3 separate regions of the Homo sapiens genome follow, and all the other regions are reported to be linked to region 3. Evidence: microRNA targets listed by miRTarBase, many of them from high-throughput screens and not tested one by one. Region 3 holds a microRNA gene; each other region holds the end of a gene's coding sequence.
The links. Region 3 holds the annotated microRNA hsa-miR-548ap-5p (AAAAGUAAUUGCGGUCUUU, at 5,798-5,816, shown strand). A microRNA usually pairs through its seed, bases 2 to 8, with sites in the 3' UTR of a target mRNA and lowers its output. Matches are read on the target gene's strand: a 7mer-m8 pairs with bases 2 to 8, a 7mer-A1 pairs with bases 2 to 7 and ends in A, and an 8mer does both.

Region 1: miRTarBase lists PTCHD1 as a target of hsa-miR-548ap-5p. Seed matches in the 3' UTR shown: 7mer-m8 at 6,395-6,401 and 7mer-m8 at 6,894-6,900.
Region 2: miRTarBase lists TRA2B as a target of hsa-miR-548ap-5p. Seed matches in the 3' UTR shown: 7mer-m8 at 2,751-2,757 and 7mer-A1 at 3,570-3,576.

What each region holds. Positions count from the first base shown.
Region 1 is chrX:23,390,581-23,400,761 of GRCh38, forward strand. It overlaps PTCHD1 (patched domain containing 1), which reads left to right. Exons shown (of 3, transcript NM_173495.3): 3 at 1,951-10,181. The coding sequence ends at 3,605. Among named protein-coding and RNA genes, the nearest start is that of PTCHD1, 61 kb to the left of the region's middle.
Region 2 is chr3:185,909,736-185,920,080 of GRCh38, reverse strand. It overlaps TRA2B (transformer 2 beta homolog), which reads left to right. Exons shown (of 9, transcript NM_004593.3): 7 at 585-644; 8 at 1,643-1,716; 9 at 2,356-5,523. The coding sequence ends at 2,366. Among named protein-coding and RNA genes, the nearest start is that of TRA2B, 23 kb to the left of the region's middle.
Region 3 is chr15:85,819,858-85,830,202 of GRCh38, forward strand. MIR548AP (microRNA 548ap) reads left to right here and starts at 5,778; the gene lies at 5,778-5,873. It also overlaps the pseudogene RNU6-231P.

The DNA of each region.
Region 1 (10,181 bases), not on the chromosome of region 3:
GCCTTCAATTTAATAGGGGCCTCGGTGCTAGTTAACAAATTGACAGTCTTGACCTGACTTCTAAAAGTGGCTGTAAAACGATGCCTAGTCAATTAAGATAAATGCCAAATTCCTCTGAGGAAACAGGCCTAAATCATTACTTTGAAATGGGCATTTCAGGTATGAGGCCAGGACTTCACAATAAGGATATAAATACTAGCTTGGGCATGAGGGAAGATGTACACCTAGCTATTGTACACACAAGATAACAGTGACTCACTTTATTCAGCATTATGCTTGGCTGGAGATTTTAAATTCCTTTTTAAATACAAGACTATTGTACCACAGGGTAAAGATTTTATTATCCTCAATAATGGGATTGAATATGCCAAGGCGATGGAAGCAGGAAATTAGATCTGCTGATCCCCATTGCCAAGACAGGAGTTATCGAAATCCACAACGGGTCACTTTGGTGAGCCTTCCAATGTTGCAGTGGCCTGGAAACACAGGGACTCGAAGTAGGGAAATGTCTGGCTCCAACTACGAGAGGTGGTAGAAGTCATGCTAGATCAGGTTCCAGGCAGCAGAATGGAGTTTAGAACATGAGCATTTACTGTACCTCTGCTATTTCAGTATTGCTGAAATACTAAACCAGGAGGCGAAGGCACTAAGCAGTTACGCAGCGGGGTTACTGATCTGGCTCTTTCCCACAGATGCCACTATCAAATAGCGCGGAGAAGCTAGCAGAGTCGCTGCTGACGTATTATATCACTGCTTGATAAGTCATGTATGAATAACCAAATTGGTCAAACAGATCCCTGAAGACAAATTGCAAGTCATAAACCTTCAACCTGAATCCTAATTTTTATCAATAACCAGGAGAGTTCATATTTATCTTATTTTTTCTGTATTTTCTTCACTGAAACTTCTTCACTCCTACTTATTTTGCTTCCCTCTTTCTAAGATTTATTGCTTCCTGCCCTGATATTTGGGGAGGGAAAACAGAGGGGGCTGTGATTTAGTTTCCTGTCAAGACTCAAATGAAATACACTGCCTCTTTATCACTAAAACCCTCTAGTTGGCAAATTTTAAATGAGGTGACAGGACATTAACTCAGAACCCTCTGCCCACTATCTTCCTCTGCACTGACCCCTAGCCAGACTTGTGGGGACGGAAAGCAAAATGATGAGTGTCCAGACATCTTCTCTTCTCTGGAGCGTTCCACCAACCAAACTGCACCAATAACTCTAAGCTATTAATGGGAAAAATCCCCAAGAGACATATGCACAAGTCTAATCAGCTTTTATTCTTTTTAGAGTCAGGGTCTTGCCCTGTTGCCCAGGCTGGAGTGCAGTGGCACAATCATGGCTCACTGCAGCCTCCAACTCCGAGGCTCAAGAGATCCACCTGCCTTAGCCTCCCAAGTAGCTGGGACTACAGATATGAGCCACTATTCCTGGCTAAGTTGTTTCATTTTCTTTCTTTTTTTTTCTTTCTTTTTTCTTTCTTTCTTTCTTTTTTTTTTTTTTTTTGAGAGATGAGGTCTCGCTACATTGCCCAGGCTGGTATCAAACTCCTGGTCTTAAGTCATCTTCCTTCCTCAGTCTCCCAAGTTGCTAGGATTACAGGCATGAGCCACCATGACTGGCTCTACTCAGCTTTCTATAGGCAAAAGTTCATCTAAGTGCTGTTTGTTTGGTGGAACACTCCAAAGAAGAGAACTTTCTTAAGCCAGAGGGAATATGAAGATCTTTGCTTCTCTAGCTGCCCTTTCGTTATCCATTAACATTTACGATTCATAAAAACATGGGTCTATCTCCGCATAGGAGAAATCATTGGCATTTACATACCCGTCACCACTAGGGTTGATTACGTTTCCTTTGACCCAGTAGTCCCTCATAATCAAGTTGATTTCCCTCTTAAGAGATTAGTTCTTTAAACTTCTGCTCTGGTCTTTTTCTGCCCTCTTAGGTCATGGATTATATGGGACTTTTGAAATGTTATCCTCCTGGAGGAAAACTAGAGAAGACCAACATGTTAAAGAGAGAACTGCAGCAGTCTATGCAGACTCCATGCTCTCCTTTTCTCTCACCACTGCCATGTACCTGGTCACCTTTGGCATAGGGGCCAGCCCTTTCACGAACATTGAGGCAGCCAGGATTTTCTGCTGCAATTCCTGTATTGCAATCTTCTTCAACTACCTCTATGTACTCTCGTTTTATGGTTCCAGCCTAGTGTTCACTGGCTACATAGAAAACAATTACCAGCATAGTATCTTCTGTAGAAAAGTCCCAAAGCCTGAGGCATTGCAGGAGAAGCCGGCATGGTACAGGTTTCTCCTGACGGCCAGATTCAGTGAGGACACAGCTGAAGGCGAGGAAGCGAACACTTACGAGAGTCACCTATTGGTATGTTTCCTCAAACGCTATTACTGTGACTGGATAACCAACACCTATGTCAAGCCTTTTGTAGTTCTCTTTTACCTTATTTATATTTCCTTTGCCTTAATGGGCTATCTGCAGGTCAGTGAAGGGTCAGACCTTAGTAACATTGTAGCAACCGCGACACAAACCATTGAGTACACTACTGCCCAGCAAAAGTACTTCAGCAACTACAGTCCTGTGATTGGGTTTTACATATATGAGTCTATAGAATACTGGAACACTAGTGTCCAAGAAGATGTTCTAGAATACACCAAGGGGTTTGTGCGGATATCCTGGTTTGAGAGCTATTTAAATTACCTTCGGAAACTCAATGTATCCACTGGCTTGCCTAAGAAAAATTTCACAGACATGTTGAGGAATTCCTTTCTGAAAGCCCCTCAATTTTCACATTTTCAAGAGGACATCATCTTCTCTAAAAAATACAATGATGAGGTCGATGTAGTGGCCTCCAGAATGTTTTTGGTGGCCAAGACCATGGAAACAAACAGAGAAGAACTCTATGATCTCTTGGAAACCCTGAGGAGACTTTCTGTCACCTCCAAGGTGAAGTTCATCGTCTTCAATCCGTCCTTTGTATACATGGATCGATATGCCTCCTCTCTGGGAGCCCCCCTGCACAACTCCTGCATCAGTGCTTTGTTCCTGCTCTTCTTCTCGGCATTCCTGGTGGCAGATTCACTGATTAACGTCTGGATCACTCTCACAGTTGTGTCCGTGGAGTTTGGAGTGATAGGTTTCATGACATTATGGAAAGTAGAACTGGACTGCATTTCTGTGCTATGCTTAATTTATGGAATTAATTACACAATTGACAATTGTGCTCCAATGTTATCCACATTTGTTCTGGGCAAGGATTTCACAAGAACTAAATGGGTAAAAAATGCCCTGGAAGTGCATGGGGTAGCTATTTTACAGAGTTACCTCTGCTATATTGTTGGTCTGATTCCTCTTGCAGCTGTGCCTTCAAATCTGACCTGTACACTGTTCAGGTGCTTGTTTTTAATAGCATTTGTCACCTTCTTTCACTGCTTTGCCATTTTACCTGTGATACTGACTTTCCTGCCACCCTCTAAGAAAAAAAGGAAAGAGAAGAAAAATCCTGAGAACCGGGAGGAAATTGAGTGTGTAGAAATGGTAGATATCGATAGTACCCGTGTGGTTGACCAAATTACAACAGTGTGATAATGTCTGCTTGGCATATTTTCACCTTAGGTCTTATCAAGACCAAAGAGATTATGTTAATGAAACAATTAAATTCAAAGTTCTTCCCTTTTTTAAAGATAGGAAACAGGCATTGCCAAAAAAAAAAAAAAAAAAAAAAGGAAAGGACAGTGGGGAGAAATGGGCCTGGCATATTTTCAGTCTTTAAAACAAAGGAGTTGTTATGAGAATTCACACACACATAGACACACACACACACACACACACACACACACACACACACACACCCTGGGAGACCTATAGTCTCTTAAACTAAGATCAAGTAGAAGAAAGCTTATTAACAAGCAGGATCCTGCCTTATCCAAACTGCAGATGTTGCTGGCATTGTGACAAAACCCACTGATTGAAAGGTCAACTGCCAAGGCAGAAACACCTTTAAGCATTGTTCAAACAATAAGGCTTCCAGAACTTCTGTAGAGCAGTAGCTCCAGTCATGGTCTGTGGTTTGAGGTTTTAGCTGTCTCACCTAGCTCCCTAACACTGAAGGAGATACTTGTGAAAGTTCTGACCAGCAAAAGCAAGCCAGAGCCTTGGAAACTGATATGTGGTAGAGTGGCCATCACTCATGGACTAAAATTGATTCACCGCTAAATTTACCCAGGTGAAGCAGTTTCGTTGTCTAGAATGAAATTATCATATTCCGCCATTGGTATGCCTTTAACATTTGTATAGTTTGGTTTGCTTAAAACACCTTAAAACCAATGACAGCTCCAGCACTGCAGAATTGGTGTGATTCTACTTTGGAATAGCTTGTCACTTGTCACCAAATGGGTCTGCTTTATTAGTTACAGCTCTTGGCAGGAGGATCCAGGGACCCAAAACCACAGGGCCAAACCCAAATACCTGGCATGATGGAGCAAAAGCAGGTGTCTACTTGGACCCAGATATAGTGTCTCCATTTTAACAACAACAACAAAATAGCCAGCTGGTACAGCTGTTTGCATTGGCCCTACATGCATTTTTTGCATGGATATCCAGAAACATCTGCCCACACAAAACTGCGGGGAAAAAAAATGAACACTGAAATAGTTATTTGCTGTTGCTTCCAACTTGTAGTGCCAGTCTGCCTTTGCTGTGAAACACACCTGCTCAGAGACAGAGAGGGGAAGAAGATCTTTGGTAAGTCTAAGTCCTGACGCTGAGAAGCTTTGTAAAAGTGCAGGGAGATAAAGGGCCAAAAGGGAGATAGATGGAAAACACTGGAAAAAGTATTCACTGATACAAATCTATCAATGATGGCAGTCCAATTCTCTTGCTAAAGTGGCTGCACCTCACCTTGCTGGTCCCCCCCACACCTTTTTTGATGTCCTTCTGCGTCATCATAGCAAGGCCCTTCTGTAAATTAACAAGCCTAGATATTTATACTCTTGACTTCCAGTATCTACAGAAGAATGGTTCATAGATCTAAACAGAAATGGTTTAGATCTAAAAAGGCTGTATACGTTGCCCAGGCCCCTGCATTTCTTTAAATTTATAAAAATGAAGCTAAAACCTGGTTACATTTGAAGCAAATATCTACAGTATTTTTCCCTTTTAGAGATGTAGCTTCCTTAGACATCTGTAGTGGTAAGCATTTCCCAAAAGCATCTTACCTTTCTGAACCTTAGCAGACATACTGTGCAGCTTACCTATCTTCTGCAGAGGAGGAAACTGAGACCTAGGAGAATAAAGTGACTCACTCAGGTCACACCACTAAAGGGTTTTCATCATTTCAGCATACCTAAGACAGGGCAGTCCAATTTTCAGTATTCTCATAAGATGGCTATTACTCCTCTCAAAATGCATTTCCAAAGTAGGAACATAGGACTTCGTTGGCCACAGGGCAGACATTTTTTTAGTGTCTGGAATTAAAATGTTTGAGGTTTAGGTTTGCCATTGTCTTTCCAAAAGGCCAAATAATTCAGATGTAACCACACCAAGTGCAAACCTGTGCTTTCTATTTCACGTACTGTTGTCCATACAGTTCTAAATACATGTGCAGGGGATTGTAGCTAATGCATTACACAGTCGTTCAGTCTTCTCTGCAGACACACTAAGTGATCATACCAACGTGTTATACACTCAACTAGAAGATAATAAGCTTTAATCTGAGGGCAAGTACAGTCCTGACAAAAGGGCAAGTTTGCATAATAGATCTTCGATCAATTCTCTCTCCAAGGGGCCCGCAACTAGGCTATTATTCATAAAACACAACTGAAGAGGGGATTGGTTTTACTGTTAAATCATGTGTTGCTAAATCATTTTCTGAACAGTGTGTTCTAAATCAGTCATTGATTTAGTGTCAGCCACGTGGAGCACCTCGGCTTAAAGCAGCTCCACAAAACCTGACACAACACACACACCAATTAAATGGATTTTGTTGAGAATTTAATCATTCAATTTGGTCAACCAGAATGACTTCCTGTGGAACTCTGTTTTATGACAGATAATAGTTTTCCAACTTGATTGAGTCTCTGTATACCCTGGGATATTGTATTTTTTAATGAAGGGCATTTTCAAACTTGTCAACTTCTCTTTTCAGCACTTGAAATGAAGGCTTATGGAATTCTGACTGTGAAATGAATTTTTCTATTGGGAGATTATGCATGCCAAGATTTATTATTTATTGTTAGATAATTATTATTTATTTGTTAATACTGATTATTGATTATTGCTCTGCTGCATTGGTTTAGCCCCGCTATGGAGAAGACACTTTAGAAGTAACTCAGAATCACATCCCCATAAAATCTAAGTCTTTACTTCATCAAGTTTTACTTTTTGAATTGCTATAAAGACGGAAAAATTGATCCCTGCAAACACTTGAAGAAGCTGTGTTTTTTTTCTTTCAATTAATTCCAACCAAGACATTAACGTCCACTTTACCAAAGAAACTTACTTGGTTGGTTTTTAGTTGGTGTTTGTTGTTTGTTTACCAAAGAAAATATTCGATTCATCAAAAATATTGCTCCTGGTCAACTAAAAAACTGTGATACTGGGACTTTTTTGGCCATTCATAAGGAAAATTTTTAAAAGTCAAGGTAAGGGTGATATTCTCTCATTTAGTGGAAGAAGAAGATGTCAATTCACAGGGAATGTGGTGTTCGCAAGAAAGAAAATGATACTTGAAATAGGGCATTATTGTTTAGCCTACAGCAACATTTCAACAAGCAGCATCAGGGCTCCTCAGGTTAAAAGAAGTACAGTTTGTTTCAGAGAAAAAGGAAGACAAACCCTCGTGAAATGTTTCTCCATTGTTCCAGCTCATAAGTTTTACTTTGTTTTGGGTTTTGGAGTTTTTAGTTTCTTTGATGTTTGTTTTGCTTTAATTTGGTTTGTGGTTTGTGTTTGCTTGTGTTTGCTTCTGCCTTTCCTACCTTCTGCCTTTTACTCCCTCAGTTTTCAGTCAGAAGTGTGATAATCAGATGCCATCCTCCATGGCCACGCTTATGTATGCAATATACCGCTCCAAATGAGGACCTTGGTAACCCTTGACCCTTTAATTCTAACTAACCATCACCCAATCGTAAGTGGCATTATGGGACCATGATACCACTTTTCTCCAGTGTCAATGACAGAGCTCAGCTGTGTCCATCACAAGAAAAGGTGGAATGGGCAGCTGTCTTGGGGGTGTGGCAAGAGGCAGAACCTCTTGGACACAAATGTTATCTTCCTCATAATGGCTTTATTCTTTTGGATCCTATTAAAGTACCCCTGTAGCTTATAGTAGTGTTTGACCTCTGTGACTCTGTTTTCTCATCTGTAAAATGGGGATAATATCAGTAAATGTCTTTAAATTCAGCAAATACTTATCGAGTGCCAAATATCGCCCAGATACTGTTCGAGAGGCTGGGGACACAACAGTCAACAAATCAGATTTTTTAAAATCTGCTCTTGTAGAGTCTACCTTTGAGTGACATTGCAGGTATATTGTGGGGATTGAATGAGATGAGAGATGACATTTGGAAAGCACTCTTGGAAAGGCCTGGCAAAGAAAAGAGACTCAAGACATTATTTGTAATTCAGCAATCTCGCACAGTAGCATTAGGGCTCGGGATGTAAAGCTACTGAGAAGTAGATTTGAGCCTGAGAATTAGGGCTACAAATACAATGAGTTGCCACAGAAGGTAGTTAATTACCAGTCATTTTAGGACATCAAAATGAAGCTGATCACCACATAGTGGGGCCACTGTAAAGGGGCTGCAAGTCCTGGATGTTGGCATCATACTATGATCTTTGAAAAAAACAGATACAGGCACTTGCTTTTGGGGATGGGGAAGGGACACCACTGATTACTGAATAACTGTGGCTGGCTTGTCTGAGGGAATGTAAACATTCCCTTGAGGTAATTTGCTTTTAATTTTGTGTAAAAAGCACCAGGTATTTAGAGACATAAAGTTCCCGTTTTTTAAAAGAATAGTAAATCTGCAATACAAAGAAAAATATTAAGTTAGTGGATTCGCTGGCAAAGAACTAAGAATGGCTGCAGCCAACACACTGCAGAGTTCCTCCCTGTGGTGGTTACAACTGTTATTTCTGTTTCATGCCAGTCCAGGAGAAAGCAAAGAGGAAAGTGGATGAGCTATAATCCGTTCACCTGAATAGGCAGTGCCAGGATGTCCCCCCCAGCTTGCCTCTCACCCGCCCCGCTGCTGCCCAGCTGATTTGTTTGAAGTCCTCTTTGATATCTATGAGAGCACCGTGGAAGGAAGAAGAAGGGAGGCGACCGGAGAGCTATGGCCTCTGTGCAGATTTTTGAGTTAGATTAAAATTAGTACCACCTGATTAGGAGCCTACCTGGTGAGGAAAAAAGCCTTCTTTTCAAAGTACAAAAAAAAGCGATGTGTACCAAGGAGAAAACCAGCAGAGAAAGCTTGGTGGAAGAAGTGATGTTCTTGTGGAATGTGCCAGCAGCTTCTCCTTCCAGAATGCTGACACCAGATGAATCTTTGGTTAGAATTAAGCCTACCCCTTTGTTTTTCACATGAGAAAACTGAACCCTCGAGTAATGAAATTATATTCACAGAGCTAATTAGAAACAGGAGACTATAATTGAAATCTAGTTTTTAGCCTCAATTCTTTCTCCATTTTGCCACTTTACTGCCAAATTCTATTCATCTAAATTATTGGGGTCTTAACCTGGGGGCCAAATGAGTTCATGGGAGGGGTCTCTGAGTTTCCTACAATTAAGTTACATGCAAAAATGTGTGTATATGTTCAACATGTGCATTTTCCTAAACTGAGGGCTCAGATTCCAAAAGAGGTCTATGACCGAAAAAGGGTGAAGAACCACTGTCCTAAATTAATACAGACCTCATTGGGAGTGTGATCCTGGTGTCCTCATTTTGGCTAATGAGCAATCAAGAACTTTTGAACTATCTTTTCTCTAAGGATCCAAAAATGCTTCAAAATATTGGTTTCTTCATCCCAAGCCAAGTGCCTACTTCTATTCATTTATTCTTCATTCATTCTTTCATTCATTCATTTCTTTATTCTGCAAATGTATTTTCAGTGCCAATTCATGTTCTAGCAGCAGCTAAATATGCCCTCCACAGCAGGACCAGGAAAGGAGCCCTCTGTACTGTGCTCTTGTTGGCAAGAGGAACACCAGGTTGCTACCACATTCTCACTGTTGCAACAAATTATATATAGCCTCAAATTTTCAGTAACCATCCCACACACACATACACACATAAAGGCAGCAGCCAACAAAGCCAACATATAGAAGTGTGCCCTGTCAAAGAACCAGGAAGAGCAGCCTATTTCCAGGTTATATACAGTGATATGCTGTTTACAACTGCATACCACATCCTTAGAAGGCCTGCTCCCAAATGAGCCCTACTCTGAGATGTCTACACCAGGCATGCTTTCACACACGTGCAGTACCCTACTCTCAAAACAAGTATGGAGAGAATAAGTCTCATTCATCTCGTTAATATTTTTAGTGGGCAAAGAAGCAACCGTGGCCATGGACAGATGGGTGCATTTAAGGACAGGTGTGGCCGGGCACAGTGGCTCAAGCCTGTAATCCCAGCACTTTGGGAGGCGGAGGCGGGCAGATCACGAGGTTAAGAGATTGAGACCATCCTGGCCAGCATGGTGAAACCCCGCCTCTACTAAAAAATACAAAAAAATTAGCTGGGCGTGGTGGCACGTGCCTGTAGTCCCAGCTACTCAGGAGGCAGGAGAATCCCTTGAACCCGGGAGGTAGAAGTTGCAGTGAGCCGAGATTTCACCACTGCCCTCCAGACTGGCAACAGAGTGAGACTTCGTCTCAAAAAAATAAAGGACAAGTGTGTTTTATACACAAATATGCAGAAGCCCAGTTCTCTTGACTCCAAGTCAGAAGCTAGATAAAATAGAGGTTGCTGGGGGAAGTTGGAAAATAAATGACTATACTGTACTTGTTGGCTCTGCTGCTGCTGATATAACTTCAGGCACAACGGAAGCCGCCTCGGTTGGCCTATGGGAAGGGCTGGGTGAATCACTGCTTGGCCTTGCATGAAGCACAAAGGACACACCAATGGCTGATCAGTGGCCCTTCCATCATCTTCTGCCCAG
Region 2 (10,345 bases), not on the chromosome of region 3:
AAAAATAAAGATATCTTTGAGAATACTTCCAAAGATAAAAATGAAGTAAAATTGTGACATTTTGGTCCTCCCTTGTCAAAATGTGTAATTTGACAAGTCAAATAATGTAGTTAGTAAGTATTGACCACAGTTGTCATTGATAATGGTATTGAGGTATATGGATGTCTATTTTGTGCATTATTTGGCAATGTTTAAGAAGTTAACAGTTGTCAGTCATTGTCTGAAAGTGAGTCTGTAAGTGTATTGTTCAGCATTTTATCACCCATGAAAACCCTTTTTTTATTTAAAGCATCACTCTATTGAATGGTACTAAAGGTACAAATTTGTTGGGGCTGAGATTTTTTTCTTAGTTTGATTTTTTTTTTTAAGAGCATTTACTTAGGAATGTTCTGTGTTCTAATACTACTTATTTCAGCCACCAGAGAGAACCCTATGCCAGTTTCTAAAAAGGGTGGCAAATCACTTGACCTGCAAGAAACATCTCATTCATGCTCTATGAAAGTTTTTATTTTACTAAATGAATGACATAATTTTTTAAAACTTACAAACTGAATGCGTGTTGTGTTGCCTTTCTGTCTTCACAGAGGAGGAGGTGGAGGAGGAGGAGGATGGAGAGCTGCCCAAGACAGGGATCAGATTTATAGGTATGCCAGGAGAGGACTTAGCATCTGTACAACAGTATAAAGCTTCACATAAAGATGTTTGCCTAGTAATGTTTTGGTAAATTATAAGTGGAATACCCAAAATCAGACTGTTTGAAGCTCATGAAAATATTCTAACGGAAACTAAATGTATAAAGTCTTTGTATATTTATAAAAATTAATTGGTTTTGCAATAGATTATTTAGTGATACCATTTTATACCGTGATGAGGTACAGTGATGTTAGTCACTGATAACTCATTTTTTTTGTCATTATGTTCTTGTATTACATTTTCCTTGCTTTTTAAAAGTAAGCATCTCAAATAGCACAAGAACATTCAAGCCAGCCTTTTTAACACAAAGCTAAATCCTGAAGCACTTGTGAAATTAGTTTTGGGTGTTCAAGAGGGTGCTGTTGGGATTATTTAATGGTATGGGAATTTTCTCATTTTTATTTTTAATTTTTGGAGACAGAGTGTTGCTCTGTTGCCTAGGCTGGAGTACAGTGGAGCAATTTGAGCTCACTGCAGTCTCTGCATCCCGAGTAGCTGGGATTACAAGCATGCACCACCGCACAGAGCTAATTTTTTTTTTTTAGTAGAGACAGGTTTTCACCATGTTGGTCAGGCTGGTCAAACTCCTGGCCTCAAGTGATCCTCCTGCCTTGGCCTCCCAAAGTGCTGGGATTATAGGCGTTGAGCCACCGCACCCAGCCAGGAATTTTCTTTTACAAAACTCTCTTAACATAGTTCACAAAATTTAAAAAGTAAGTAGATTAAAATATAGCAAGGATTATTTGACCTTAAAGTTATTAAGAGTGCTTATTTGACACTTGGGCCTGATAATGTGCTTCATTCTCAAGATTTAAACAGACCTTGAAGGTTCATGCAGCTTTCCTTTTTTGGGGAACTGATGAAAGGGCAGTATATATAGTCATAAATTTATATGTTTGGTCTAATTGTGATCTATTGAGACTTAGACAATCTTGACATTTGTTTATAGAAGGCGGTCACCTTCTCCTTACTATAGTCGTGGAGGATACAGATCACGTTCCAGATCTCGATCATACTCACCTCGTAAGTTTTTATCTTAATATGATTGTTTATATTGTAGTATGGCTTGCTCTGATGACAGTGTATTCCCTTTATCAGATAATGGATTGGTTTCAGGTAGTTTCATACCTAATGATTCTCCACACATCCTGAACATTTTTTGGTTCAAGAAAGTTTGTGGAAACAACCCTTAGAATCCTATTATTTTTTAAGAAGGAAAAATTGGACAGCCTCCTGAGCCAGAGTAGGCTCGGAGACTCCTGTTGTTTCTAACTGAAATAGTAAATAATGTATTTCCACCATTTACCCAGAGTAGGCTCAGAGACTCCTGTTGTTTCTAATTGAAACAGTAAATAATGTATTTCCACCATTTAGTAGCTTTTCAAGAGTCCTTAAAAATTTTTGGACAGCACAGAAACATGGATTACTTAGCCCTTTAGTTCTCAGATTGAGTTATATACTTCCCAGCAATTTCTGTTATTTAAGATTGCTATCTCATTTCTGGTGTAATACTTACATGGAAGTCTTTCTCTATTTGGGGGTGGTGGGGTTCTGGCACATAGGAATTTCTTAATGGCAGAATATTCTGAAATTCTCGGCATTAAAGTATACTTGATAATTAGTTCACTTAATATTAAAGCATGTTCATTCTTTTCTTCCCAGGTCGCTATTAAAGCATGAAGACTTTCTGAAACCTGCCCTAGAGCTGGGATATTGTTTGTGGGCAATATTTTTTATTGTCTCTTGTTTAAAAAGTGAACAGTGCCTAGTGAAGTTAGGTGACTTTTACACCTTTTACGATGACTACTTTTGGTGGAGTTGAAATGCTGTTTTCATTCTGCATTTGTGTAGTTTGGTGCTTTGTTCCAAGTTAAGTGTTTTCAGAAAAGTATGTTTTGCATGTATTTTTTTACAGTCTAAATTTTGACTGCTGAGAAGTTTCTATTGTACAAAACTTCATTTAAAAGGTTTTTCTACTGAATCCAGGGTATTCTGAAGATCGAAGCCTGTGTAAAATGCTACCAAATGGCAAAAAGCAACAATAAACAGTTTGATTTTTACTTTTCTTTCTAACATATCAATGCTTAGCAGAACTATTCAGATTGTCAGTAGTAAATTTAAAGACAAATGCCCGTTTTCCTCCAGTCCATGAAACATACCATACTTATATACCTGCAACTAAGTGTTTAAAATTATGCTCTGTAACTCTGTACTGCTAGTATTAGAACTAAAAATCTTAAAATACAGCCAGTGCTTAATGCTTATATCAATGTGGATTTGTCGGCTTTTATGTAATCTGTAATATGTATAGCAGGAAATACGAAGAGTTACACAGTGTATGCCTTAAAAGGCTGTTTCTTAAAGGTGTTACAAGGGGATAATGGTATTTCAACTAGTTATCAGCAAGTGACAATACATTCCACCACAAATACACTCTTGTTCTTCTAGCTTTTAGACTATATGAAAAAACCGGGTGCTTCAAAGTACATGATAAGGGAACACTATACCTGTCATGGATGAACTGAAGACTTTGCCTGTTCATTTTTTAAATATTATTTTCAGGTCCTTTGCTTACCAAAGGAGGCCCAATTTCACTCAAATGTTTTGAGAACTGTGTTTAAATAAACGCAAATGAAAAGAAAAATGTTGGTGCAGCTGTTCACAAAGAAGTGTTCTTGTTCTATTATAATTAGAGTTCTTCTGTAGTTTAATCGTTAGGGCAGTGTGTTCCTTGGGCTGAGGTGTATCTTTGCTATTTTGGGCTGGGTTGAGGGGGGGATGAATTTCTGTATTCCTGGAAAATTCAGAGTGCATAACTAGGTATTAGAGTGATCTCCATTTGGGGATGGAGTTACAGTAAATAACTAGACTGCGGGTACTTTAATACATGTTCTTATTATTTTGCATTTAAGTAATTTTCATGACCAATTGTAGGGATGTTGCTACAGGTGGGTTATTTTGTTGCCTTGCTAACCTTTATCGCATCTAGGTATTAGTATGTTTCAGGTACTTTGGGAAGAACTTTACATATAATCTTTAGCAATGAAATGATGTAGAGTAACTTACCTTAGTTCAAATAGCTGTTTAAGTGGCAATGCCACGATCTGAATTGAACCTAGGTGATCTTAGTCCACAGTTCTCTTGATCATGATGTCTCAAATCTGGGTACCTGGGTGATGGAAAATACCAGTAATGGAGCATAGGCAGTATTGGCAGGTCTTAATTTGTAAAACTTACTGTCCAGGGTGTTTTCAGTGTTTGCCAACTTGTGGTAAATTAATATGCTTAGAGAACTACCCTTAGGTTTGTTTCTGATAAGCATGTGGAAACAACTTAGTATATGCCTGATGGGTTATTTCAAATTGTTCTCAATGAGTTTTGAAACAAGAATTTGTAGTATTTATATATAAAGTTGAGTTTTAGGGTGTGGTCCCAGAGGGGGTTGTGTTATGGATGGATACATTAAAGGCTGAGAAACCTGGTTTTATCGTGGTAGTATATACAGGCATCCTTTCCTGAAGTAACTACATTCTCCACCATTTTCTCCCCAACCAAACCTCTCCCCATCAGTTAACTGATGGCTTGCGAGTTCACACTCCTGATAATCTCGAACATAACCCTCGGTTTCTATCCTAAAGCCTGAGTTTTAGCCCTTTAGTTGTGTAGCCATCCTTTATCCTGCTGATTGAAAGTTTCCTTTTTTAGGCTAGTTTGAGTTGTTTTCTGGCTTTTAGATTTGAAAGAATTTTAGCCATTTGACATGGCTACAAAGAGTGTTAACAGGCAAAAGACTGAGGAAAATTTGGAATTTTACCAAGTTGAGATAGACTGAGAAGTAGTGAGACAAAGTGGTAGTCTTTTGATGTGCTGTAATGCTAGTCGCCAGTTTCATGAAAGGGAGGCAGCAGTTACCCGTAGGTAACCCCTAGGTAACTGCTGCCATGGGCAGCTGAATCAGACAAAAGCCATGGGAAAGGATAAATTTGAGTCTTAAAGTTACTGCCTCAAGGCAAAGGGACTTGGAGGCTTTTATATGCCAATACAAACAATCCATTTCTTATAGCTGTAGGGCTGAGACTACTAAAACCAAATGTAAAGTTCATTTGGAAGATTGCTAAGTTAAATAGTTTTATACTAGGCTTTTGTGAAACTTCTCAGGAAATCAACAGGGTCCCAGCAAGTGGAAATAAGGCTGTGTCAAAAGATTTGTAGACCTGGGAGCAGGGGTTTCCGATCTCCTGGCCATGGATTGCCTGAGCTCCGCCGCCTGTCAGATCAGCAACAGCAGATTTTCATAGCAGGAATCCTATTGTGAAGTGCGCTTGAGAGGGATCTAGCTTGCACATTTCCTTATGGAAATCTAACTACATGTTAGAGAATGCTCAAGGTCTGCAATGTTTACATTGTTGCCCCTACATAAGGAATATATGCCTTAAGATAAAACTAATAGCTCTTAGCCCTCTTACACCATTGACTAGGATTCCAATTCTGCAAGGCCCAGGAGGAGAAATTGAGAATTAGAAGTTTCACCGAGAAGAAATAAAAAGATTTGGTTTGCATTATCAAAATTTCTGTAAATTATATGGAAATTTTGAGGATGGATTAGGCTGGATTTATTAGCAGTGGACACGCCTCCAATATTCCTTCAGCATGCCATCTCAGTGGATTTTGATTGGCTCTTGTAGGATTGGACTTAATGCTAGCTTATGCCAAATGTCATCAAAAAGCCAGAATGCTACTACAGTAATGTAAAGGATTATTGTATATAGTGTAAAGGATTATTATGTGTAATCTTTAATATATAATGTAAAGACTTAAAAGTGACAAGAATACTGGATTGGTTCTATTCCACTCACTCTGTCCCTTACTAGCAAGACAAGACCCAAAATAATCCCTTCTCCCCATGAGTAATCAGTTGATGAAGTTAAAACTATTTCAAGAGCTTTACTGGCCTGGCAAGAGGAGATGAATTGAAATGGGATCCCACGTTAGTACTAAGAGACCAGTTAATCACTGTTTTTTGGTGGGGGGGGGGGTTCGTTGGTGTGTGTGTGTGTGTGTGTGTGTGTGTGGTTTTTTGAGACAGTTTCACTCCTGTTGCCCAGGTTGGAGTACAGTGGCACGATCTCAGCTCACTGCATCCTCCACTTCCCAGGTTCAAGCGGTTCTCCTGCCTCGGCCTCCCAAGTAGCTGAGATTACAGACGTGCACCACCACGCCCGGCTAATTTTTGTATTTTTAGTAGAGACAGGGTTTGACCGTGTTGGTCAGGCTGGTCTCGAACTACTGACCTCGGGTGATTCACCCACCTCGGCCTCCCAAAGTGCTGAGGTTACAGGCGTGAGCCACCCATTCCCAGCCAAGACCAGGTAATCACTGTTAGCCCTTAGAAGGTGAAGTTGGCAGGGTTAATAAAGGAGCAAGATAAAATGTGTGTGAAGGGATCTGGCAGGAATTTCAAGCTGTAGTTAACTAGATACTAGGTTCACAGAAATAATAGTCTTTTTGCCAAAGACACCTGTAACTATTGAACTGTTGTAGAAAGATAAATACCCAAACTTACCAAAAATAACAGTTGACCAACATCATGGGTTTGAACTGTGTGGGTCTCCTTACAGGAATTTTCTGCCTCTGCCACCCCTGAGGCAGCAAGACCAGCACCCCCACCCCCTCAGCCTACTCAACATGAAGATGATGGAGATGAAGATTGTGAGCCACTTTGATGTATTAAATAGGTTTTATTTTAACGGATACACATAATATAAAAGTTTTGTGTTACCCGTTATTGGGAAGGCTTCTTACCAACGGGCTGTTAAGGCAGCTCCCAGTCAAAAGATGTGCTCAGCTGGGTATAGAGGATTACAGGAGAACAAGGACTGTAAGACCTCGAGAAGAAAAACTTGGCTCATTGTCTTCGTCTGGAGAAATAGGCATGAGTTTACAGGTATCTTCTGGACAGATCAATATCTAATCATCTTCGTGGTTAAAGGGTTGGAGCAGCAGGATAGATTGGTAACAGCAAAGGCAATGAACATATCTTCAACATGAGTATCCACTCAAGTTTAAACATTACCACAACTGAGCTCCAATGTGAAATATACTTTGATGGGAATAACTGCAATACTAAGTTTCCTTGTGAGGGGGGACAGTAATTTGTTCTCACTGAAAATAACATTCTGTGGATTTGGTTTCTAGTCATTCCTTTATGGGACCTTATATCCATACCTGTATTGTACCATGTGACTTGGCTTCTGTACCAGAGTTCACCTGGAGAAAACCATTTCTATATAGTTGATAGCAACTATACATACTGCTTTTATTGATTTTGTTTTGAGACAGGATCTCACTCTGTCCCCCAGGCTGGAGTACGGTGGTGTGATCACAGCTAAACTGTAGGCTTAAACTTGTGGGCTCAAGTGATCCTTCCATTTTAGTCTCCAAAATAGGGAACTACAGGTCCAGCTATTTTTTTTTTTTTTTTGAGACGGAATCTTGCTCTGTTACCCTGGCTGGAGTGCAGTGACATGATCTCAGCTCGCTGCAACCTGTCTCCCGGGTTCAAGTGATTCTCCTGCCTCAGCCTCCTGAGAAGCTGGGATTACAGGTGCCCGCCACCACGCTGAGCTAAATTTTGTGTTTTTAATAGAGGCAGGTTTTCGCCATGTTGGCCCGGCTGTTCTTGAACTCCTGACCTCGGGATCTGCCTGCCTCAGCCTCCCAAAGTGCTGGGATTACAGCCGTGAGCCACTGGGCCCGGCCGAAGAGATTGTTTTTAAAAATACTTAGGAATTACATGTAACTAGCTTAACCATCAAACCTGTTAAATTAGTGGAATCAAGCTCAAGTTTCTCACTAAAATTTTTGAAAAGTGTTTGTGGAAGATTTCAAAGAATTTATTTTAATTAAATGTTTTAATATTGTTACTAATAGCTTATATTTTATTACATTTTCCTCAATTATTTTATGTAAAGAAACTGCAGGGGTTTTGTTGTTTTGGGTTTTTTGTGTTTTTTGTGTTCTTTTTTTTTGAGATGGAGTCTCACTCTGTTTCCCCAGCTAGAGAGAGTGGCATGATCTCAGCTCACTGCAACCTCTGCATCCCGGATTCAAGCAATTCTCCTGCCTTAGCTTCCCAGGTAGCTGGGATTACAGGCATGAGCCACAACGCCTGGCTAATTTTGTATTTTTAGTAGAGATGGGGGTTTCTCCATGTTGGCCAGGCTGGTCTCGAACTCCTGACCTCAGCTGATGCCACCTCAGCCTCCCAAAGTGCTGGGGTTACAGTCGTGAGCCATCGGGCTCAGCCCTGCAGGAGTTTTTTACTAAGTCCATTATGGGTACCCAAATCACCACCAGTTTACCCCCAGTGTACCTCACCGCTATTGTCATTTTCTGTGTATGCCTTGATGCACAAAAGGTTGGGAAGCTCTGCCCTCCAGTGAAGCCCATCAGCTGATGAGCTTTCCCTTGCACGTCGGGCTTCCATTCACAATCTGTTTTTTTTATTTTTTATTTTTTTGAGACGGAGTCTCGCTCTGTCTCCCAGGCTGGAGTGCAATGGCGTGATCTCGGCTCACTGCAACCTGCGCCCCCCGAGTTTCTGCTATTCACCCTCAGCCTCCCAAGTAGCTGGAACTACAGGCGCCCACCACCATGCCCGGCTAATTTTTTGTATTTTTAGTAGAGACGGGTTTTCACCGTGTTAGCCAGGATGGTCTCAATCTGACCTCGCGATCCACCTGCCTCAGCCTCCCAACGTGCTGGGATTACAGGCGTGAGCCACTGCGCCCGGCCACAATCTGTTTCTTTCTTAAATATGAACAGATAATCAAGGATCACTAGGTTTTAAAATCTTCAAGAACAAAGACGGGAATCTAAACAAACAATTGGAAAAGGGAATTAGGTTAAACAATAACCAGAAAACACTAATAAAAAATATTGCTAAATTATACTTAATTAAAATTTAAAAAGCTTTGTGCTGCAAACGATAACATCAAGAAAGTGAAAATAAAGCCTTCTATAGGGTTTGATAAGAAAGAGAAGGGCATTCTCAGGGGAGAGGGGACCAGGAGTAAAAAGGTCTTTGGGGAGAACTTAGGATGTATGATTTAGAGTCTGAGGTCCACACGGCCAGGTTACACTGATACACAATGGTGTCATCATCACATGCCAGCCTGGAAGCCATGCCACCTGGATTTGAACCCAGATTCTGCCTTTTAGCACTCATGACTCCCTTCTGTCAGTGGTGCTAATTATAGTACCTGTACCTCCTTCATAGAGAATGTTGTGAAGAGTTAACATTAAGAAAAGTACTTAGAAGAGGGCCTGTTATTTAAGATAAATAAGCTTAATGAAGATGTGCTATTATTACTATCATTGTTACTACTACCTCTTCTGCTAGAGAGTCCTGGGAATGGGCCTGGGTTGACCAGAAAGGCCTTAGAATCTCAGGCTACAAAGTTTGAACCCAAAGGAACAAAAGTAAGAGAAAGCCAATTTTAGTTGAAACAGGATAAAAGTGTTTAGGACAATGAAACCAGTAGGAGTGTGTAGGCCCCCCCCTAACACGCCTCTCCATCTGGATTATGGTCCCAGCTAAGGGCTTCCTCCATCATCACACTCACCCCAAGACACTGTAGTTGCCTGTCAATTACCTGCCTCCCCAGCTGGACCATGTCTGTGTTACGGGTGCATCTAGTGTCTAGCGCAGTGTCTGGCACTAAGTGCTCCACAGATGCTCTTCTGATGAATGAAGGAATAGATGAATGGAGTAGAACGATAATTTAGAAAAGGGTCTATAGGGAGCCCAGCCCAGGGGCAGGCTCTGGCCTAGGATGAAGGCAGAGGGAGTGAGAGAAAAGTAAGAAATGCACTGGCCATCAGAGAAATGCAAATCAAAACCACAATGAGATACCATCTCACACCAGTTAGAATGGCGATCTTTAAAAAGTCAGGAAACAAAGGTGCTGAAGAGGATGTGGAGAAATAGGAACACTTTTACACTGTTGGTGGGACTGTAAACTAGTTCAACCATTGTGGAAGAGTGTGGTAATTCCTCAAGGATCTAGAATTAGAAATACCATTTGACCCCGCCATCCCATTACTGTATATACCCAAAGGATTATAAATCATGCTGCTATAAAGACACATGTACATGTATGTTTATTGTAGTACTATTCACAACAGCAAAGACTTGGAACCAACCCAAATGTCCATCAATGATAGACTGGATTAAGAAAATGTGGCACATATACACCATGGAATACTATGCAGCCATAAAAACGGATGAGTTCATGTTCTCTGTAGGGACATGCATGAAGCTAGAAACCATCATTCTCAGCAAACTATTGCAAGGACAAAAAACCACCACACGTTCTCACTCATAGGTGGGAACTGAACAATGAGAACACTTGGACACAGGAAGGGGAACATCATACACCGGGGCCTGTCATGGGGTTGGGGGAGGGTGGAGGGGTAGCATTAGGAGATATACGTAATGTAAATGAGTTAATGGATGCAGTACACCAACATGGAACATATATACATATGTAACAAACCTGCACGTTGTGCACATGTACCCTAGAACTTAAATAAATAAAAAAAAAATACACTTGTCTAGAAGACAGGAGACTTCATTATATTACTCTCTTTA
Region 3 (10,345 bases):
AGGCATCTTCCTTGTTTCTTTTTATAGTTACAGAGCTCTCCATTGTTTTGGGTTGAATGTTTAGTCAATCCATTCCTATGGACATTTGGTTCCAGTCTTTCGCTATTGCAAATACAGTTGCAATGAATACTGTTGTATATATGTCTTTTTCATAGTTTGTCAATGTATCTTTTGCATAGATTTGTGGACGTGAGCTTGCTGGTCAGAGAACAAATGCATATGTAATTTTGCTCCATATTGCTAAATCCCCCTTCTTAGGGATTGCACTCTTTTGCATTTTGTAGGTGGGGCTTCTCCCATGGAAGTCTCTGCGTCAGGGTGACCCGGAGGGCTGCTGTCCATTATCCTGGGCCCCTAAAGGCTAGAACACAGAATTCTTTCCTCTGGAACATTCAGTTTCTTGAAAAAGAGGTTGTGTGATTGTTCGTCTGGAGGGAATATATATTGCTCCCAGGTGTTGGTGTTTCCACAGGGGCATGTGAAGTGGGTGGATTTGAACGTTGGTGGTGAGTCCACTTGTTCCATATGGACATCTTCCATAATTTTCTATTTCAGCTCGCATTTCACTCCCACCAAGCATTTCTGAATCCCAAGTCTCTCTAAGTTTGTGCGAGACTTGCTGACATCCTTCCCTGGTGTTACGCTGAGCACCTTACTCTTGGCTGGGACTTCTTCAGCCCACCCAGTAGCTACTCTTCTCCAGGTGCTCCTCATCTTGCAGAGCTTTGCTGAAATCTCTTGTGTGTGATCTGCCTGCTATTCCTTCTACCATTGAAGGTTTATGCCTTTTAAATTAATTTAGTAGCATTTTATGAGTTTGAGATTGGGGAGAAGATAAATTTGTGGTGTTATTCCAACATTTTGATCCAGATGAGCACCAAAAATGTGTAGAAGGAGGCACTGAAGCAGCTAGAGTATGAGGTTAGAAAAGGAAAGGGCTTTCTAATAAGGGCTGCTCTGGAACATTTATTTGGCCCTACTTCATGGCTTCTGAGAAACACAAGGGAAGGATCTGAATTATTTTGAAGTTGCTTTTTCTTTTCTTTTCTTTTTTTCTGTTTTTTCTTTTCTTTTCCTTCCCTTGCTTTTCTTCTTCTTTTTGCCCAGGCTGGAGTGCAGTGGCACGATCTCGGCTCACTGCAACCTCTGCCTCTCAGGTTCAAGCGAATCTCCTGCCTCAGCCTCCCCAGTAGCTGGGACTTATAGGCGTGCGCCACCACTCCCAGCTAATTTTTGTATTTTTGGTAGAGCTGGGGTTTCCCTGTCTTGGCCAGGCTGGTCTCGAACTCTGGGCCTCCAGTGATCTGCCTGCCTTGGCCTCCCAAAGTGCTGATATTATAGGTGTGAGCCCCTGCGCCTGGCCTGAAGTTGCCTGTGACTAAAAGTCACAACTTTTAGTTGTGAGATGCATGTTTCTCTGACTGGACCACATGGCTTCTTGATACTTAAATGATCAACAAGTTAATTTGGAAAATAGAGCAGCTACTATGCTTAAAATATGGGACATGCTAAGATATTAGATTCAGCCACCCTACTTTCTGACATATATATGAGGCTTTAATCTTATTATCAAGCAAAAAATAAAAACAAAAAACACAACCCCAAACAACAATAACAAAGCAAGACATCTGCAGAATTGTGTTATGCTCAATTTGTGGGGGCCCTTGCATATGCCCTACATTTTCTCAGATGCCTTTTTCCTTGTAAGACTAAAATATAAAATGAGTATTTGTCCTTATAAATGGTACAAGTCTCACTTGCAAAATGATCTAACTTGTATATATCCAGGGTCATAATACCTTGTATCAGACAAGGGGTTAAGACGGGAACAAGTCAACCCTGTTGTCAGGGAATGCGCGGTTTAGTGGAGGAGGTAGAGGAGGTGGACCAGCTAAGAGACAGTTACAAAATGACGTGATGCTTGCTGTTATAGCGGAGTGTTCAGATGAGTCAAGGATTTAATTATCATAGCTGACAATGTACATTTTTATACATGCTCACTTTGACAGTGCATATATTAAAACTGAAGCATTACAGAGACAATTGGCTTGGTCCCTAAACCGAGATGACTTAGAGACTCATGAGACACTTACATTTTTGTGAGATAGCCTGTTGTCGTGGAAACATGCCTCAGCCTCCCCAGTAGTTGGGATTACTGGCACGTGCGTGCCACCACACTGGATCCCAAATGCCTAGGTTTGATTCCCATTCCTACTTTTTATTTCTATTCAGGAAGTTCCTTAACCCTCTCTACGACTCAGTTTCCTCATTTGTAAAAGCATGGGGTCCAGGAGCCATGGCTCATGCCTGTGATCTTTGGGAGGCTGAGGCAGGAGAATCGCTTGAACCCGTGGGGGCAGAGGTTGATATGAGCTGAGATCACACTACTACTGCATTCCAGTCTGGGAGACAGCGAGGCTCTGTCTCAAAAAATAATAATAATAATAATAATAATAATAATAATAATAAAAGAAGAGCACCAAAGAGCTAGCCCTTTTCTCTCCATGCGAAGGCACTAAGGCTTTGTAGGGACAGAGCAAGAGGCAGCCATTTGCGAGCCAGGAGGAGATACTGAATCAGCTGACCAGATACCGAATCAGCCAGAAACTTGATCTTGGACATCTAGCCTCCAGAACTGTGAGAAAATGTATTTGTGTTGTTTAAGCTACCCAGTCTGGAGGTTTTTGGTTTTTTCTTTTTTTTTTTTTGACAGGCTCTCGCTCAATTGTTCAGGCTGGAGTGCAGTGGTGCAATCTCAGTTCACTGCAACATTTACCTCCTGGACTCCACTATCCTTCCATTTCAGCCTCCTGAGTAGCTGGGACTATAGGCGCGCACCGCTATGCCCAGCTAATTTTTTGTATTTTTCATAGAGACAGGATTTTACTATGGTGCCCAGGCTGGTCTAGAACTCCTGGGCTCAAATAATCAGCCTGCCTTGGCCTCCCAAAGCTCTGAGATTACAGGCATGAGCCACCATGCCTGACCTGCAGTCTGGAGCTTTTTTTTTATTATGAAAGTCTGAGCAGCCTGATACAATAATGTTCCAATCTCTGTTATTTTCTGTTATTATTATTATTTTTTTTGAAAAGGAGTTTCATTCTTGTGGTCCAGGCTGGAGTGCCATGGCACAATCTTGGCTCTCTGCAACCTCCGCCTCCCAGGTTGAAACAATTCTCCTGCCTCAGCCCCCTGAGTAGCTGGAATTACAGGTGCCAGCCACCACTCCTGGCTAATTTTTGTATTTTTCGTAGATATGGGGGTCTTGCCATGTTGGCCAGGCTGGTCTCGAACTCCTGACCTCAGGTGATCCACCTGCCTTGGCCTTCCAAAGTACTGAGATTACAGGCATGAGCCACTGCACCTGGCCTTTTTTTTTGTTTTTTGGATAGGAGACATCCTAATGGGAGTGAGGTGTGGGCTTAAGAAATAGAAACCATGGTGGTTCCTAACCTTATCCAGAGCAGAGAATCTAAGAATCTGGTGAAAACTCTGCGCCTTCTCCCTAGAGAAACGCCCATAAATATATCATTTCGCATAAAATTTAAGTAAGTTTCTCTAAGGCACCATAAACCTCAAATTATAAATCCTCGACCTAGCGTAACGAAGTGTTCTTAGATCAGTAAAACATACTCAGCAGTTTTTAAGAATTGCATTGGTAGGCCCGGCATGGTGGCTCCCACCTGTAATCCCAGCACTTTGGGAGGTTGAGGTGGGTGGATCACTGGAGGTCAGGAGTTTGAAACCAGCCTGGCCAACATGGCAAAATCCCGTCTCTACTAAAAATACAAAAATTAGCCGGGCGTGATGGTGTGTGCCTGTCATCTCAGCTACTCGGGAGGCTGAGGCAGGAGAATCGCTTGAACCTGGGAGGTGGAGGTTGCAGTGAGCCGAGATCACGCCACTGCACTCTAGCCTGGGTGACAGAGCGAGACTCTGTCCCAAAAAAAAAAAAAAAAAAAGAATTGCACTGGTAGTTGTCTTCTCTATTTCTTCCATATACTTATTGGGCATTTATTATCTGGCTAGTGCTGTGCTAAATACTCAATTATATTATTATATATATAATATTATACATACTTATTTACATTGCATGTTGTATTTTTATACAATAAAAACTATATTATATATAATTATTATATATTGTATTTTTCTACCTTAAAACAACCGTGTGGAATAAAGCTATTTTACCACTTTGCAGATGAAGAAACAGGCTGATGGAGGTTGGTCATCTATTCAAGGTTCCCACTGCAGTCCCTGGAGGAGCTGGGATTCTTTGAGCTTAAAGATGTTAGTGTAACTGGGGACATGTACAGACACTGTGTGAGAAGGCAGCACCCATGGCAGATGCCTGGGGCTAGTGAGCACCCTCTAATATTTTCTGGGAGGGGGCAATTATTTGCAATAGTTGACTCCGCCCAAGTTTATCAACAGATGTCCAATCGCTGACCTTCAGATGCTTTCTAGAATTCCTGGGGTTCCTAAAGCTTCCTAATGCTTTGATGACAACCTCTCTTCTAGGAGTCCAAGGGGGTAGCACTGTGTTTCAATGATGAGGTCAACAGAGAAAGACTACCCAGAACAAAATCAGAATGTCCTGTTTTATGAAGATAAATCAGACATAGAAGTGGGAAATTAAAAAATATATATATCGTGGAACTTCCTATTTTCACTTCTGCTACCATGACTACCATTCAGGGATCCATAGCACTTGAAATCAAGCAGGCATAGTATCTGTTCAATCTACTAAAAAATACTGAAAAATAAAGGAAGTGCCATAGCCTTGCTGCCAGAGCTACTCATTTTCTTTTGCTTTTTTTTTTTTTTTTTTTTTTTTGGAGACAGAGTTTTGCTCTTTTTGCCCAGGCTGGAGTGCAATGGCGCGATCTTGGCTCACCACAACCCCTGCCTCCTGGGTTAAAGTGATTCTCCTGCCTCAGCCTCCTGAGCAGTTGGGATTACAGGCATGTGCCACCATGCCAGGCTAATTTTGTATTTTTAGTAGAGACGGGATTTCTCCATGTTGGTCAGGCTGATCTCAAACTCCCAACCTCAGGTGATCCACCTGCCCCGGCCTCCCAAAGCGCTGGGATTACAGGAGTGAGCCACCGCGCCAGGCCTCTTTTGCATTTTTGTAAATGGCAGCCATTACTGAGCCATGTTATCACCTACTGGAAAGGGATATTCCTTGGCCCTGGACAGTGATAGCAGTGGCAAATCATTATGGGTTTGCAACAAGCTCAATTCTTGCCTCCTCAGAAGAAAGAATTCAACCAAAGGGCATAAGGCAGAGTGACAGACAGAGGCAAGTTTTAGAGCAGGAGTGAAAGTTTATTAAAAAGCTTTACAGCAGGAACGAAATGAAGTAAAGTACACTTGGAAGAGGGCCAAGCGGGAGACTTGAGAGAGTCAAGTGCACTGCTTGACCTTTGACTTGGGGTTTTATACAATGGCATGCTTCCGGGCTCTGCATCTCTTCTTCTTGATTCTTCCTTGGGATGGGCTGTCTGGGTGCACAGTGGCCTGCCAGCACTTGGGAGGGGCCACATGTGCAGTGTATTTAACTGGAGTTGTGTGCATGCTCACTTGAGGCATTCTCCCCTTACCAGTGTTCCTGGAGGAAGGTCATATACTGGTTAAACTCCGTCATTTTGCCCCTTAGTGTACATACTTGAGCCCACTCACCCAACTCTAGAGATCTCACTGGGAAGCTGCTGATTGCTAGTTTCAGGTGTTTCTCTCTACTAGGAGACTGCCTTTCCCTGGCACCAGCTGTGACCAATTCCTAGGTTGGTGCAAAAGTAATTGCGGTCTTTGTCATTAAAACCAATAACAAAAACCACAATTACTTTTTACTGACCTAAAGATTAATTTAGGGAGACAGTGTAACAAATGCTTTACCATCACCTGATGGTTGCCTGACATTCCTGGTGGTTGGGAGGGTTCCTCTCCTGCCCTGCTCATGGCTGGCTAGCTACCTACTGTAACAAGAGCACAGGCTGTCAAGCAGGTTTTTGGCTTCCCAGACAGGGCCCATGGATTTTGTGAATGCAGCCACTATTTATTGATGTAATCGCTCCACCCTATAGGGCTGGAGTTGTGCTTGGCCACAGAGTGCCAGATGGCCATTAGGTACCAGCTGCTTCCACCCAAGAACACTGTCACTCACAGAATGCAGCTGCACAGATACCAAGATGGAAGCCCCAACAGTTATCATGGATGTTAAGAAATCCTACCGCCACTTCAAATCACAAGACTAGCTAACATATACTGAATGCTTATCACACATCGGGTGCTGTGCTAAGCACTTCATGTGGATTATTAGTTCCTTAAATCCTTCCGACAAGCTATCATTTGACTTTCTAGGGACTCTTCTAAGAATAAAACTATCCTTGAACTACAGCACTGTTTTAGGAATTGTGGGAGTCTTCCCTTCCAACCCAACTCCTGTGTTCTCTTGGGGAATCCTTGAAGAGCTCAATGACTACTGCCCACTAAGTGCCCTCACACTACATGCTCCTTGTCAGCTTTACAGGACATGCGGATCCTGGGAGCCTTACCTCATTCTCTGTTGAAGAGAAGATACAATATAGTTTTTTGTTTATTGCCTGTGTGATGCTAGATCAGCTTGTGCCTTAAACTTGGTATTGAAGGGGTGACCTAGACAGAAACTGCCCAAAGAGTGAAATTTATTTACTAATAAGTATGAATTGTCTGCATGCAAAGGATGCATTTTATTGGAAAAATTTATCATGTCAACATATTTTTACCATATTATCTTGGCTATATTATAACAGTATAATGGAAAGTTATTGACAGGAAGGAACCTATGTTTTCAGTAAACCATCATGGACCATAGAATAAGTCTGCCACTGAAAAGGCTGTATTTATGATTATTGTAGGCAACTTGAGAAAAACCCCTGAGGGAACTTATGGCCAGGTGCAGTGGCTCACACCTGTAATCCCAGCACTTTGGGAGGATGAGGTGGTTGATTCCTTGAGCTCAGGACAAGGCAAAACTCCATCTCTACAAAAAATAGAAAAATTAGCCGGGCGAGGTGGTGTGTACTTGTAGTCCCAGCTACTCAAGAGGCTGAAGTGGGGGGATCACCTGAGCCCAGGGAGGTCAAAGCTGCAGTGAGTCATGTTTGCGCTACTGCATTCCAGCCTGGATGACAGAGCAAGACCCTTTCTCAAAAAAAGAAGTGATCTAGATTTTTTTTTAAAACATGCTGATAGTACAGAAACGTTCCTGGGGAATAATTTGACTGCAAGAGACGTTTTCAAAAAGAACTAAGATAGTTTTGATCCTATCTCAAACCTCCCCTTTAATGATTGAGGCTTTACATCAGTTATTTACAAGAAACCTGGAATGTCAGACAATACAATTTGTAATAATGGTGCAATTACAAAATTTGTGTCTGAAGGTTTTATGAGTCGTTATCAGCACAGCCTATTACTCAGTGGTCTAAGAGAATGGCCACAAAGTTGCTGCAAGTATCTCATCCCTCAGCACACAAGAACTGCCTGTGTAGAAGTACTAATCTGTCGGCATCTCTGGACTTGCTTCAGTCATTTCTGATCAGATTTAGCTTACTGTCTCTAAGACAAACAAGAGTATATTTGGGTTATTTATTTGTATCTATTCAGCTCTTTATCAGAGTGTTTTTTTTTTTTTTTTTTTTTTTTGAGACAGAGTCTCATTTTGATACCCAGGCTGGAGTGCAGTGGTGCAATCTCGGCTCACTGCACCCTCTGCCTCCTGGGTTTGAGAGATTCTCCTGCCTCAGCCTCCCGAGTAGCTGGGATTACAGGCACCCACCACCATGCCCAGCTAATTTTTGTATTTTTAGTAGAGATGGGTTTTCACCATGTTGGCTAGGCTGGTCTAGAACTCCTGACCTCAAGTAATTTGCCCATCTCAGCCTCCCAAAGTGCTGGGATTACAGGCGTAAGCTGCCGCACCTGGCCCTATTTGGCTGCTCCTGTTAGCCCTTTTGCACGGGGCTGGATTCCCTCAATTCACTTTTCCACGCAGACAGCTGGAGTAGGGACAATCAAATTATTTACTTTATAAATTATGCCATTATTACTTCTAAGAGTACTGGTGTCCATTACATCCTTTTCAAAGACTTTCACTGATCAGCTGAGATATCTGGCTTTTTAAGATCCATATTTTTTCTTTATCTTTGCCTCACTGTTTATCGATAGATATACCTGAAAATATAAAAGATTAACATGGTCCAGGGAAGCCAGTGTTTATGGAGTAACTATTTAAAGATAACTGGAGCGGACACTTGTTACTCTAGAAATTTCCCTGTATCTTCTGTTCCCATCCATATGGCTACTTTAGGAGTTGCCATCTTGGTTCAATGCCAGTCTGCCACTGGGCACAGTTGATTGGACCAAATTTAGCTTGCAAGTCAAGCTAGGCCAATCAAAGTTATTTCATGGAGAACTGGATTTGGAAAACAGAGGGTACTGTTTTTCTTTCTGGAAGCTTGATTGACAGGTGTCAAATATGCAAGCTGTTGGCAGCTTTGTGGTTTAGGGAGTACAGGGGTTGGTCCATAGCCAGAAGAAAAAGAGAAGCCAACACAACAAAGAGGGTAGAGGCTGGAGACAGAGGGTATTTTTGTTTCCTGGGGCTGCTGTAACAAATTACCACAAACTGGGTGGCTTATAATGACAGAAAATTAGGCCGGGTGCAGTGGCTCATGCCTGTAATGCCAGCACTTTGGGAGGCCGAGGCGGGCGGATCACGAGGTCAGGAGTTCAAGACTAGCCTGATCGATATGGTGAAACCCCATCTCTACTAAAAATACAAAAATTAGGCGGGTGTGGTGATGGGCACCTGTAATCTCAGCTACTCGGGAGGCTGAGGCAGGAGAATTGCTTGAACCTGGGAGGCAGAGGTTGCAGTGAGCCAAGATTGTGCCACTGCACTCCAGCCTGGGCGACAGAGCAAGACTCCGTCTCAAAAAAAAAAAAAAAAAAAAAGAAAAAAGAAATCTATGTCACAATGTCACATACCCTTATCTAAACCAATTACCAACAAAGGGTTTGGGAACCCATGATTGGCTTGGACCTATGAGGATTCAGCCCTTGGGCTGGGGCTGTGATCAACCCCTTGTGAAACACAAAGCTGAGCACAGGAGGGCAGATGCTGTTCTGAATCGAAAGAGGAAAGGAGGGTGGGTGAGAAACGCATGTTAAGTAGGCAACCAGCAGTGTCAGTGACACATGGCCGACTTATGTTTTCAAAATCCCAAATGACTCCAGGCACTTTCCACCAGATTTTTTAGCTTACCTCTAAACAGCCATCCATGTGCTGTAGGCAAATTTTGGCAGGAAGTGCCAGAAGGTAGCATCTCGCCCCTGTTCTAATCTGCTTACTGTGCCTCTGACATCAGTAGCACAAAGGGTAAAAATCAGTGCAGTCAGCTCTCCTAATGGCTGTATGACTTTGGAAGTGGCTGTTTGGAAGGTGGTTTTAAGAGACCTGTAAAAGGACAGACATGCTTCATGGTTGTGGCTCCCAGGTAACAACTCTGAAGGACTCAACACCTGGATTCCTGGCCAGAGCCCCTCAGGTGGCCTCCATGTAGGTGCCATAGCAAAGAATCCCATTTTTTTTCATCTAGGAAAAGGGAACAAAGGTGTGGTTCCGATCAGGGTGGTTGGTTTAAGTCCACAAAAATCATCTGTTAAGCAACTACTAAAGGCAAAGATGGACCAAATTGACCTGTTCTTTGTGGGCAGTCTCCATCCAGCTGCTACAGGCTCTAAATGAGCCACCATATAGTATGGCGGCTCATACTATCGGCTCAAGATAGTTGACCTTACAGGTCACCTGTGGAAAGCCATGGAACCCTGGCAGCAGGAACTATTTCTCTTTGGGACCAGGTTCTTGGAGAGAGAGACTAGGCTCAGCTTTCCTGCAACTTGCAGGGTTGAGTCAGGGTCATCTGGCCTGAGGCAGAGGCAGTCACTTGTGGGGACGGTGGGGAGTCTGTCCTAGTCCTCTCACCCCACCCTGGAGAGTTACCACCACTGAGGAAGGAGGAAGGAGATGTTTCTGTTTGTCATCTCATGACATCATCACAGCAGCAAATGATGTGGGCATGGTTGGGAGTGGTGGCTGATGCCTGTAATCCCAGCACTTTGGGAGGCTGAGGCAGGCGGATCACTTGAGGTCAGGAGTTTGAGACCAGCCTGACCAACATGGTGAAACCCTGACTCTACTAAAAATATAAAAATTAGCTGGGCGCGGTGGTGCATCTGTAATCCCAGCTACTCAGGAGGCTGACACAGTAGAATCACTTAAACCCAGGAGGTGGAGGTT